3 linked regions of the Homo sapiens genome follow. The protein of the gene in region 3 interacts with the protein of the main gene of each other region in a pairwise test. Each region holds a gene or a part of one and is shown on either strand. Other genes may lie near its edges. The genes, in order: CRACR2A, KRTAP4-2 and ZNF20.

The links.
Region 1: the proteins of ZNF20 (region 3) and CRACR2A interact in binary tests that used the Homo sapiens proteins (3 or more experiments, as listed by UniProt).
Region 2: the proteins of ZNF20 (region 3) and KRTAP4-2 interact in binary tests that used the Homo sapiens proteins (3 or more experiments, as listed by UniProt).

What each region holds. Positions count from the first base shown.
Region 1 is NC_000012.12:3,751,107-3,754,856, forward strand, and holds the start of CRACR2A (EF-hand calcium-binding domain-containing protein 4B), read right to left. Parts: upstream 2,004-3,750; 5' UTR 1,909-2,003; intron 1-1,908.
Region 2 is NC_000017.11:41,176,812-41,180,199, reverse strand, and holds KRTAP4-2 (keratin-associated protein 4-2), read left to right. Parts: upstream 1-1,978; 5' UTR 1,979-2,035; coding exon 2,036-2,446; 3' UTR 2,447-2,754; downstream 2,755-3,388. UniProt on the Homo sapiens protein: In the hair cortex, hair keratin intermediate filaments are embedded in an interfilamentous matrix, consisting of hair keratin-associated proteins (KRTAP), which are essential for the formation of a rigid and resistant hair shaft through their extensive disulfide bond cross-linking with abundant cysteine residues of hair keratins.
Region 3 is NC_000019.10:12,138,511-12,142,260, forward strand, and holds the start of ZNF20 (zinc finger protein 20), read right to left. Parts: upstream 1,841-3,750; 5' UTR 1,673-1,840; coding exon 1,670-1,672; intron 1-1,669. UniProt on the Homo sapiens protein: May be involved in transcriptional regulation.

The sequences.
Region 1 (3,750 bases), on a different chromosome or scaffold from region 3:
TATGACCTTGGATAAACCACCTAACCTCTCTCTCAGTTTCCTCCTCTACAATATGGAACAATCATAGCAATCTCCTCATGAGGTTGTCAGGAGGATTAAATGAGATTAAACATGAAAATCTCCTACCACAGGCCCTGGCACATGGCAGATGACTTTTCCCCTACCCCCAAGCCTTTTAGCCCCTTCCTGTCCATTCCCACCAGCCCTGTTCAACCCCTCATGGTGACTGCAATGGGCTTCTTCCCAGGTTCTCTTCCCACAGCTTCCTCCACTGCAGTACATCCCATACCCAGGTGCAGATGACATGTTCTTCTGAACCCAGCTCCAGGAACAACACTTCCCTTCTTAGAAACCATCAAAATATCCCTAGGCTTAATAATGAAGTTTCTAGACTCGTAACACTCCAAGCCTCTGCCATCTCTCCCAGGCAGCACTCCTCACCGGATTGTCCACTACATTACTCCTTGCTCCTCAGGTACAACCCACCTTCACGGCTTTGCTCAGCCGTCCTTCCCCAAGATGCCCAGACCCAGCCTCCTATTCAAGGCCCGGCCTCAGTGCCACATCCAGGACGCCCTCTGCGAGTCACTCCTTCCAGAAGTAACCTCCCTCCTCCAAACTCCCTCTACACACTTTATAGTATAGAACCGAGAGGTGACAGGACCTCGGAAGCCGTACCTGAAGCCTCTCACTTATAGAACCGAGAGGTGACAGGACCTCGGAAGCCATACCTGAAGCCTCTCACTTATCACTTAAAAACTGCGCATGAAGTAGCTCTTATGGGCAAATACTAAACCATGAGGTTGTACATATTCATTTCACCTGAAAAGGGGCATGAACTCTGGACCCTTCAACAAAAATGCTGATTCCACGTGGAGCAAACTGCTCTGATTTCATATCCCTATGCCCACATCCTTGATAAAAAGACTCTTCGGTACATGCTGCTTTCTTCCAGAGACAAGGAACCCATCACCTCATGAGTTAGGTTCTTCCTCCTGACCCTCTGACCACCCTGGGGACTCCCACGGATTGGCTCTTTCTGTCCTCTTGAGTCACACAGAACGAATTCCTTTGAGACTCCTGGTGTCCTCCACAGAGCCAAACAGGGCAGGTTCCTAAGCACACTGTGTAAACAGATAAATGAACTCAGAGGGCTTTCCCACGTGGCAGGGTACATTCGCTGCATCCCGTGCATGCATGGGTGCACAGACACACACTCGCACACACACGGACACACACACACACACACGGACACACACACACAGACACACACACACACGGACACACACACACACGGACAGAGTCAGCACAACGCCTCTGAGCCACACAGCCAGGCCAGCACACGCGGGGGCCAGGGCGGAAGCCAAGCCCCAGCAGCCGCCCACTTCCTGACCTCCTTCCTTTGCTCTGGGAGGTTCTCTCTCTGTGTCTTTCTGACTGTCTGTCTCGGTTCTTTGTTTCTCGGCATGGCAACAGTTGTGGATGCTGCCTGCGTGGCCAGGGCTCCTAGTAGCACTGACCTGCAAGGTAGGAGTTTTGGTTCTTAGACTTGAGACCTTGGGCAAGTCACTTTACCATTCTGAGCCTCAGTTTCCTCATCTGTGAAATGAAGAGGCTGGATGAGGCTGGAGGGTTCCTAAGGTCCTTTCCTGACCAAAACCCTAGTGCTTCTCGGCTCTCCTCCAGTCCCGTTACCGAGTGACAGGGAGGGGAGCAAGGGCCAGGCCAGGCCTGGGGGTGGCAGGGGAGCCAGCTGTTCCCCCCCAAGGGCACACAGCCTCCATCCAGGCCCTCTGCGAGTTCCATGTGCGGCAGACACGCGCTCACACTTCGCAGCCGGAGGAGCAGGCAGGAAGCGCCGCCCCCCGGCCGCCCCGGCCGCCCACCCTCAACCTTCCTCCACGTTACCTTGGGCGTGTAGGCTTCCCGTGGACCTGCCCGCGCCGCCCGCTCGGCTCTCAGCTGTCAAGCAGCCGCCTGCTCCGCCCGACTCTTTCCGCTCCGAGCCGCGCGGGCTGGACCAGCCCCTCAGCGGAGCTGAACGGGAAGCGGCGCCCCCTGGACGCCCTCCGGGACGTGCGCGCGCCAAGCGGTGGGGTCCGGGCCTGCAGGCGCGACCTGAGGCCGCCAGGGAGGCTGGGTGGCGAGGGCGGGGCGGCTGCCGACTTAGCCGGCCTGACTGGTCGGGCTTCCGGGGTCCCGCTGCTCCCTAGGCCCCTTGCCCCGATTCAGGCTCCCAAGGTGGGGCATCAGTCCGGCCCTCGCTGGCTCACTGGAGAGGTGGTGTCTGGGAGTGCACCCCCGAAAACCCGGCAGCAGCCCGGCGTCACTCCGGCTGTTACCTCTGGGAGCAGAAACTAAAGGGGATCCTTATTCTTTATACTTTTCTGACTCTTCTATATATTCTACTGTGGGCATGAATCGTTAAAAACAAAACAAAACACCAAAAACCCAATACGTATTTGTTAATAAAGCACTGAGTAAATCTTCAAAGGCCTCCCGAGGTGCTCCGGCTGCAGGATAACCCCTCAGCTTAGCGCACAAGGCAAGGCCCACCCTGCCCTCTCCGGCCACAACCTAATTTTCCAGCCTCACCCTCTCTCCCTCACACACACACAACACTTTCGCTCTGGACACACTAGCTGTTGCCAAACACCAGCTGTTCTTCATGGCTGCTGGGAGTTCTTCTTTTTGCCTGGAACACCCTCCCCTTTCATCTCTGCCTGTTGAAATCCTACTCATCCATCCAGGCCCCTCTGAAATGTCACCTTTTTGGAGAACCCTTCCCCAGACACTGCCCCTGCAGAGTGCCCCAGTTCTTTCCTGGCAAGCCCATCTTTCTGGTACTGGTTTATGTAGTAGCATCCCCCTCTCACACGCGCTAAGTCCTATTCCAAGGTGGAGAGAAACAAATTAGCACTTACTGAGCAGCTGTTATAAATTACTCTGTGGAGTCCTTTCTTCTCCTTGCAGCCCAGCCAGCCACTAGCCCACAACCTCCCTCCACCCTGCCAGAGTTTCAGAAGGCTGTCAGGGGCTCTGAGGCCTGCCCTCTGGTGTGTCCCTACTGCGTGCCTTGGCTTTTCTGGCTCTGTCCTGGGTATGCTTCCCTGTGTCAACTCCCAAGGTCTGCAAGCTGGTGGCTTGACCTTCTCTCAGCCTTATGTGAGGAAAGAAGGACATTTCATTATCAGAATCTGAGAAGTGGAAGGGGCCTCAGAGATTATCCAGTGTAAAGCCTGCCCACCCATTTTACAGAGCAGAAAACTGTGACCAGAGAGATAAGGTCAGAGGCATCGGAGGTACCTACCATTGTTATTGTTGTTTTTAATAGTGTTAATACTTGCACGTTTAGATCGCCTTTCACTTCTAAATCAATGCGTTGTCATTCATTTGCCCCTTACAGTCTCAGAGGTATTACAGTGGTTAGTGCACAGACTCTGGAGGCCAAAGCCCTGGGTTTGAATCTCAGTGCTCCAACTTGCCAGCTACGTCCTTGGCAAGTTACTGGAACTTTCTCCATCAGTACAATGTGGATAGTAACAGCTCCTGCATCATGGGGTGTTCTATGAATCGAAATAAATGTGTATCTTTAAAGGGCTTAGAATAGTAGTAGGTTCATTAAAAATGCCAAATGTATTTGCTCTTATCAAATTTTTGTTATTGTTAATTGTATCACTTCACAGTTGGAATAACAGAGGCTCAGAAAGGCTGAGACTCATCCAAAAAATTGCTGCTTTGAGGATGGTT
Region 2 (3,388 bases), on a different chromosome or scaffold from region 3:
TGAACTAATTTGATCATGACAATAATTTCACAATATATACATATCAGAGCATCAGGGTGTACACCTTATATACATACAATTTTATATTTCAATTATAGCTGAGTAGAGGTAGAAAAAATGAAATTGTTAAAGTACTAGAAGAAATCGTGAGAGATTCCTAAATATAATGTAAATTTATCTTAAGGAAAACACACACACACACACACACACTCACACACACTCACATCATGAAGAAAAATAGTTAATATAAAGTGATCTCTACTGAATCATCAGCAGGCACCAATCGTCACGGCTTCTCAAGGGCACGATTCTTTTCCAGAATACAAGGTCTCCTGGAAATCTTAGAGTTGTTCTCGTACACCACCATGGGGCTCACAGGGTCTTAATTCCACAGCATCATGGAACCCACTTTCATCCCTCAATAAAATATGATGTCTGGGTACATCAGAGCCAGAGAACAGTGCAGGCTCAGAACACCAGCCAGCGCACCAAGCAGGGGTTCACTTGGGAGCCCAAGTTGTTTTCATTCTGCTTGAATCACCTGGAAATTAGGGCCAGGGCAGGAGTAGGAACTGGCTTGGAACATAGCAGCATCATAAGAACACCACAATTTGATTTATTAGACTTATAAGCACCTGAGAGAAGAAAGGGAATCTCCCTCATTCATCCAATCCCCTCCATCTGGTTCTTGGATCTCCCTCAGAAACACCAGCTTACACTGAAACTCCTCCCCTGATTATCTGCAGAGGCTGCCCAGTTCATAAAACATTTCTATCATGGTAAGTCAGACATTTTTCCACCCCCTTCCCTGGGTTCCTTGACTCCTCAGGGGTGGGGAAATACATATATATTTATTAACTGATGAGTTAATGAATTGACAACATAGCACATTTTTGAAACAATAGTCAGCCATCCCTACATGAAAAAATATAGGCTGATATCCTTTGTTCTTGATACCTGTTTTCTGCTTTCTTTCTCTCTTTATTGATTTATTTTTTGAAAACAAAGATGTAAAGTGTGAAATTGGATCAACAACTTCTATAAGGAAGCAGCAGAGTATAGGACATCTTCAAGGCCCAGCAATTCAGCAGAGAAAGCAAGAGGGCTGGGAGCGAATTAGAGCAAGCAAAGGATACTGAGTCATCTAATTTGGGTTGGCCAGAAAATTTTGGAACCTGGAGAGATGAGCTCATGTGCCCTGTTAGAGCTAGGAAGGCAGAAAGGCAAAGTCACAAGGAAAATCTGCCCCAGGGAGCAAAAAAATGAGGGACTTGGACCTTTAAGTATAGCTGTTCTCTGAAGCCAACATTCCCCAAGAGGCCCTGAATCTGAATTTTGGAGGGTTGTTTCTGTAGAAAAGGAAACATCAAACTTTCACAGCTTAGTTTTCCACCTTAAAACAGCTCTGTATTTCTCATCAGAAGGTCTAGAAAATGGGTCACAATTCAGAGTGCGGAAGATAAAAAAGCGATAGGTCCTACGGTGTTCTCGTTCTCACACCAGTGGTCATCTGTTTCACACTGAAATCTGTTTCACACTGAAACCTTCACAGGCCATCTGACCCATAATGAAGGAGCCATCAGACTGAAATGCAGCTTTATCCTCCTGAGTCACCAGAAAGAGTCAAGGGCCTGTAAGAATAGTAATCACCCAAGAGTAGTCATGATGTGTTAAGCAAATGAGACTGAAGCACATAGTATGTGCTTACAGGCAGATGTCACATGGCTGCTCTAGGAGGAAGCTATAGTAAGAGAGACACAGGAGGTGGTTCAGGAAGAGCTGAGCTAAGGAGTCCTAACACATTAGGGAAAGGAGACAGTGTTTCCATCTATGTGGATAAGTTAACCAGAACAACAAACTTGCCTAATTTGATAATTGCCTACATATCAGGACAAATAATAACAAGGAAAGAGTGTTGCATCTGATGACATCAGGCCTTAGCAGGGTATAAAAGAGGATCTGGGGCAAGGAAACTTCCAAACCTTCCAAACCCACCTTCCTGGAAATCCACCCAGAACCTCCACCCTCTGACACCATGGTCAACTCCTGTTGTGGCTCTGTGTGCTCTGACCAGGGCTGTGGCCTAGAGAACTGCTGCCGTCCCAGCTGCTGCCAGACCACCTGCTGCAGGACCACCTGCTGCCGCCCCAGCTGCTGTGTGTCCAGCTGCTGCAGACCGCAGTGCTGCCAGTCTGTGTGCTGCCAGCCCACCTGCTGCAGCCCCAGCTGCTGCCAGACCACTTGCTGCAGGACCACCTGCTGCCGTCCCAGCTGCTGTGTGTCCAGCTGCTTCAGACCCCAGTGCTGCCAGTCTGTGTACTGCCAGCCCACCTGCTGCCGCCCCAGCTGTGGCCAGACCACCTGCTGCAGGACCACCTGCTACCGCCCCAGCTGCTGTGTGTCCACCTGCTGCCGCCCAACCTGCTCTAGTGGCTCTTGCTGCTGATGCCCTCACCTATACTCACCTGCCTTTATTAACCAGCATTCTTGATATGATCCACCTGTGAACTGAATCATGCAAGGCCAATTGGACAACCTCAGTTCCAACCAATTCTTGGATTGAGTTTGGCCTCCAAATATGCTCACCAAACACTATGTTGCTACCCTCTACCAAATGAATACAAGTTTGAATTTTCTCTGAAATATGTCAACCCCATGTTCCCTGAATTGAAATATTTGCTCTCTACCATAATTTATCACATGGAGCTATTCCTCTATCTTAAATAAATTTTAATTTTTGAGGCATACAAATAATATACGGGCATTGTGTCTCATTTTTCCTTCTTGAATTCTCATCCTTACCTGTCAAATTTTCTGATGTTCTTCCCTGCAGAGGGAGAAGACCACAGCAGATGATATCAGGGGCTCCACCTCTATCCTATCAGCACTCTCCATTCAAACATAGGAAAATGGTTCCTTAGAGCAGGCACCTGGAACTCTCTACCTGAGGACTTTCTCTGGATAAAGGAGCAAACTCTGGGCTGGAGACTTAAAGCCTCTAGGAACAGCACTCAGAGAATGAGTGGGAGTTGGTAATATATGCCCTGGCTTGTTTCCCTCCAGTGGGGGGTATGTCAAACCAGTCTTCCAGAGGTCTTCAGCGGGATTTATACCAGATGCCTGCAGGAACATTCTGATCATGAACTCACTCTATAATGACTTTCCCTCCTTCCCAGGGTCATTCTTCAAGTTTCCTCCAGTGTTTCTTGGGTTAATCGTCCAAATATACCACATGTTCTCAGATCCTCTTTTGTGGGTTTGCCCCAGAGAGCACACAATCTAAAACAGCAGCATTCCTAATCTCAGTATTAGTGTCCTTCAAAATGTTTTTGTACAATATGAATGGTTACCATAGATTTTGATCAACTCTTGAGTTTACTGTCACCTG
Region 3 (3,750 bases):
ATAAGAGGAGAGGAACAGAGGTTTTTCACTGGAGTATCAAGTGGTTATTCTCTATTCTATGTGAAATGTTCAGAAACAGAACACAAATATTTTAAAAAAAGTTATCCATGACCTTGTGAAAAGATGATAAACCACTAAAATACTGCATCTATGTGAAAGAAAGGATGAAGAAATATACTCTACAATAAAGAAAGTTGATACAGGAGGCTGAGGCAGGAGAATCACTTGAACCCGGGAGGCAGAGGTTGCAATGAGCCAAGATCATGCCATTGCATTCCAGCCTGGGCAACAAGAGCGAAACTCCGTCTCAAAAAAAAAAGAAAGTTGATAATACTGTGAGTTGGAGAAGGGGAGTTAATGTTTGGAGATGCGGAAAAGTAATTGAAAATTTAAGATGTTACTGCAAACTGCTGAAGAGTTAGGGCGGGGTAGCAGGGTGGAGGATTTGAGACCCATACATTAGGAAAATGCAGGAGGAAGCCAGTCCCTATAGACAGTGTGAAAAAATTTAAAGCAGCAGCAATTAGACTGAAGTGTGTTTAGTGCTATAAGAAACTACCTAAGGACACCAAAATCAAACTCAAATTGAGGCAGGAAAATAGGGTCTGGACGCAGGGAACATAAGGCCTATTCAAACTTCAGCTATGAAAGGAAATACCTACTCCATAGGGCGTAAGCCAAGTAAATGATTTTATAACCTTACTTCATCCTCTCCTTTTACATAGAGTATACCCCAAGTAACCAATGGAATCCTCCAGGGGGTATTTAAACTCCCAAAAATTCTGTAACGGGGCCTTTGAGCCCCTGTGCTCAGCCCCGCTTGCACACTGTGGAGTGTTAAATCCCTTCATTCCTTCCTTGCTTTGTGCGTTTTGTCCAATTCTTTGTTCAAGACGCCAAGAACCTGGACCCCCTCCACCGTTAACAAAATGCAATTCTTCTTAAAACTTTCTGGTACCAAAACCACAAATCATGACTGGGCGTTTCTCACTCATGAATCGCTGTTTGCTCAAACTCTTTAAATTTTTTTTTTTTTTTGAGATGGAATCTCGCTCTGTCCCCTAGGTTGGAGTGCAGTGGCGTGATCTCGGCTCACTGCAACCTTCGTCTCCTGGGGTCATGCGATTCTCCTGCTTCAGCCTCCTGAGTAGCGGGGACTACAGGCGCATGCCACCATGCCCGGCTAATTTTTTGTATTTTTAGTAGAGACGGGGTTTCACTGTGTTAGCCTGGATGGTCTCGATCTCCTGACTTCGTGATCCGCAAGCCTCGGCCTCCCAAAGTGCTGGGATTACAAGCATGGTCCACCGCGCCCGGCCCAAACTCTTTAACAGAAAAAAAAATCCGCAGGATTCCCCCATGACCCTCCCGTGGTCCCCGCAAAATCTGAAGAGACGCGGGGCTGCAGGCGCGGAGCTGCCCAGAGAGGGCTCCAGGGTCGGGGCCCACAGTCGCCCGCGCAGGAACAGAACAGGAGGACGCCCGGGGTCCCGGCTGCCGGCCCAGCCGCACCCTGCGGCCGAGGGGACGCAGGGACGAGCTGAGACAGAGGGATTCGGGTCCCAGATCCAGGAGGCGCGGCGAGGAGGCCCAGATCCCACCACAGCCGCTTCCGGCCGGTTCCACCCAGCCCCTCCCCCGTCTGGGGACTCCGGCCCCATACACTCACCATTTCCCGGCTTCTGGGTGTCCCGGTGTCCTCTCTAGGGCTCCCGTGAATAGTGCGGGTCACGGTGCAGGCGGCAGAGCGACAGAAGTTGTGGCAGAGGGACCCGGGGCCTCTCGGAGTAGGAAATCTGGTATCCCGACAACAACCTGCATAGCAACAAAAGTAGAAGCTGGAATGGGCCTCCTCCTTCCGGACGGACCGTTGGCCGGGCTCCGCCCCGGCGCTTCTGATTGGACAAGGTACAAGGCCCCGCCCCCTCAGAACTGAGTGACGGCAGAAGCCCTGGGTAACGAGCCCTGCAAAGCCGGACTGATCGGTTCTAGCCACAGCTTCTCTCTAAGGGACAACTCCTTCCCTGAGCCCTGGTCATTGGATATTTTCTTTTCAGCCAAATTTGCTCCTGATTTTTACACAGGGCACTATCTTCTTCCTCATTCAATGGGCTGTCAGTGCTTCTTCGTCCTGCACAGGGTTGTAAGTGTGTGCAGGGAATTCCAGACTGAGTGTCCAATGGAGCGATGTGCTGACCTCAGAGCAGGAAGGGGAGCCCAGATCAGGCCAGGCACGACTGCACCAAGAAGGAGAGGCAGTTGTCCTTCAGGGGCCCGGAATTAGGGATGAGACATGGCCAAGGCTTTCACACATCTCACCCCACCTCACAGTGTGGAAACTCTCCCTCCTTCCAGACCTTCATCTTCATCGGCAGAAAACTCTCACTTGGTGATTTTAAGCTTCTGACCTAAATAAACTGTCAACTGCATAAGCCCCTTCTCCAGGAGAGGTCCCAAACAGTTATTTCCCTGAACTTGATCTTTACGGATTTTCTTCAGATATGCAAATTACAGTCTGACCCCAGGGACTCTATGCATGTCAAACCCAAAACACTGCTCCCGAAAACCGCCCCAGATTCCAGATGTACAGCCGCAGAAAGGACAGAACTCCTGAAGTGCACCTGCACGTGGGTCTCCTGCTTTCCAGGGCGCTGCAGCATGTCAGAACCCACACTCTTTCTGGATCTGCTCTGAGCAGCTGCAAGCCACCTGCAGGGGAGGGCGGCTGCCCAGGAAGCACCCAGAACTCCACTTCACTCCTTGGCAGGATCCATACTAGCCTCAGCGTCCCGTCCCTGGCGTCGGTCTCTGCTGCCCCCTGCAGGTTATTCACCTGCTTCTCACATCATTCATCAGTTTCCATGAGACAAACATCCTCAATCCCACTGCGAGAATAACACACGAGCAAAGCTCTCCTCCAGTGTGTATGTATAAAGTCGAGGAGGAAGTGTCCAAGATTATTTAACTGCATGAAAGTGAGGCAGTAGTGGCTGGGCGCTGTGGCTCAAGCCTGTAATCCCAGCACTTTGGGAGGGCGAGGTGGCTGGATCACCTGAGATCAGGAGTTGGAGACCAGCGTGACCAACATGGTGAAATCCCGTCTCTACTAAAAATACAAAAATTAGCCGGGTGTGGTAGAGCCCACCTGTAATCCCAGCTACTCGGGAGACTGAGGCAGAAGAATCGTTTGTATCAAAGAGGCTGAGGTTGCAGAGAGCCGAGATTGCACCACTGCACTACAGCCTGGGCAATAGAGCGAGACTCTGTCTCAAAACAAAACAAAAAAACACACAAATGTTTAGTCATGTTACTTATTTCTGGTTTCCAGCCTGACTTTATAACATTCCTGACTCTGGGACTCTCCAGCTCTCCAGAATTATGCTTTGAAGAAAAAACAAGATAGAGCACAGGGCCCACATGTCTCTTATAAACTGTGAACCAAAATATTACATAGCAGCCATCTGTCAGAACTGCTTCCAGGCTATTGTCCTCAGTCACAATCCTAAATCAAACTCACTTTCTTTAACAAATTTAATTTTTTTTCTTCAGTCCACATGAGTAATCTAAAAGAAACACATAGACAGAAGAATCTCTTTATTATCATCTTTCTACCAAGTCAACATCAAGCATTAAAAAAATGTAAAACAAAGTGAAAACCATCCTTCTCTGATTCATCGTAGACCCAGAATCTGCCAGTCACCAACACCTATCTTCATTTTCTCTATTACGGCCAACTTTTATCTAAGAGAT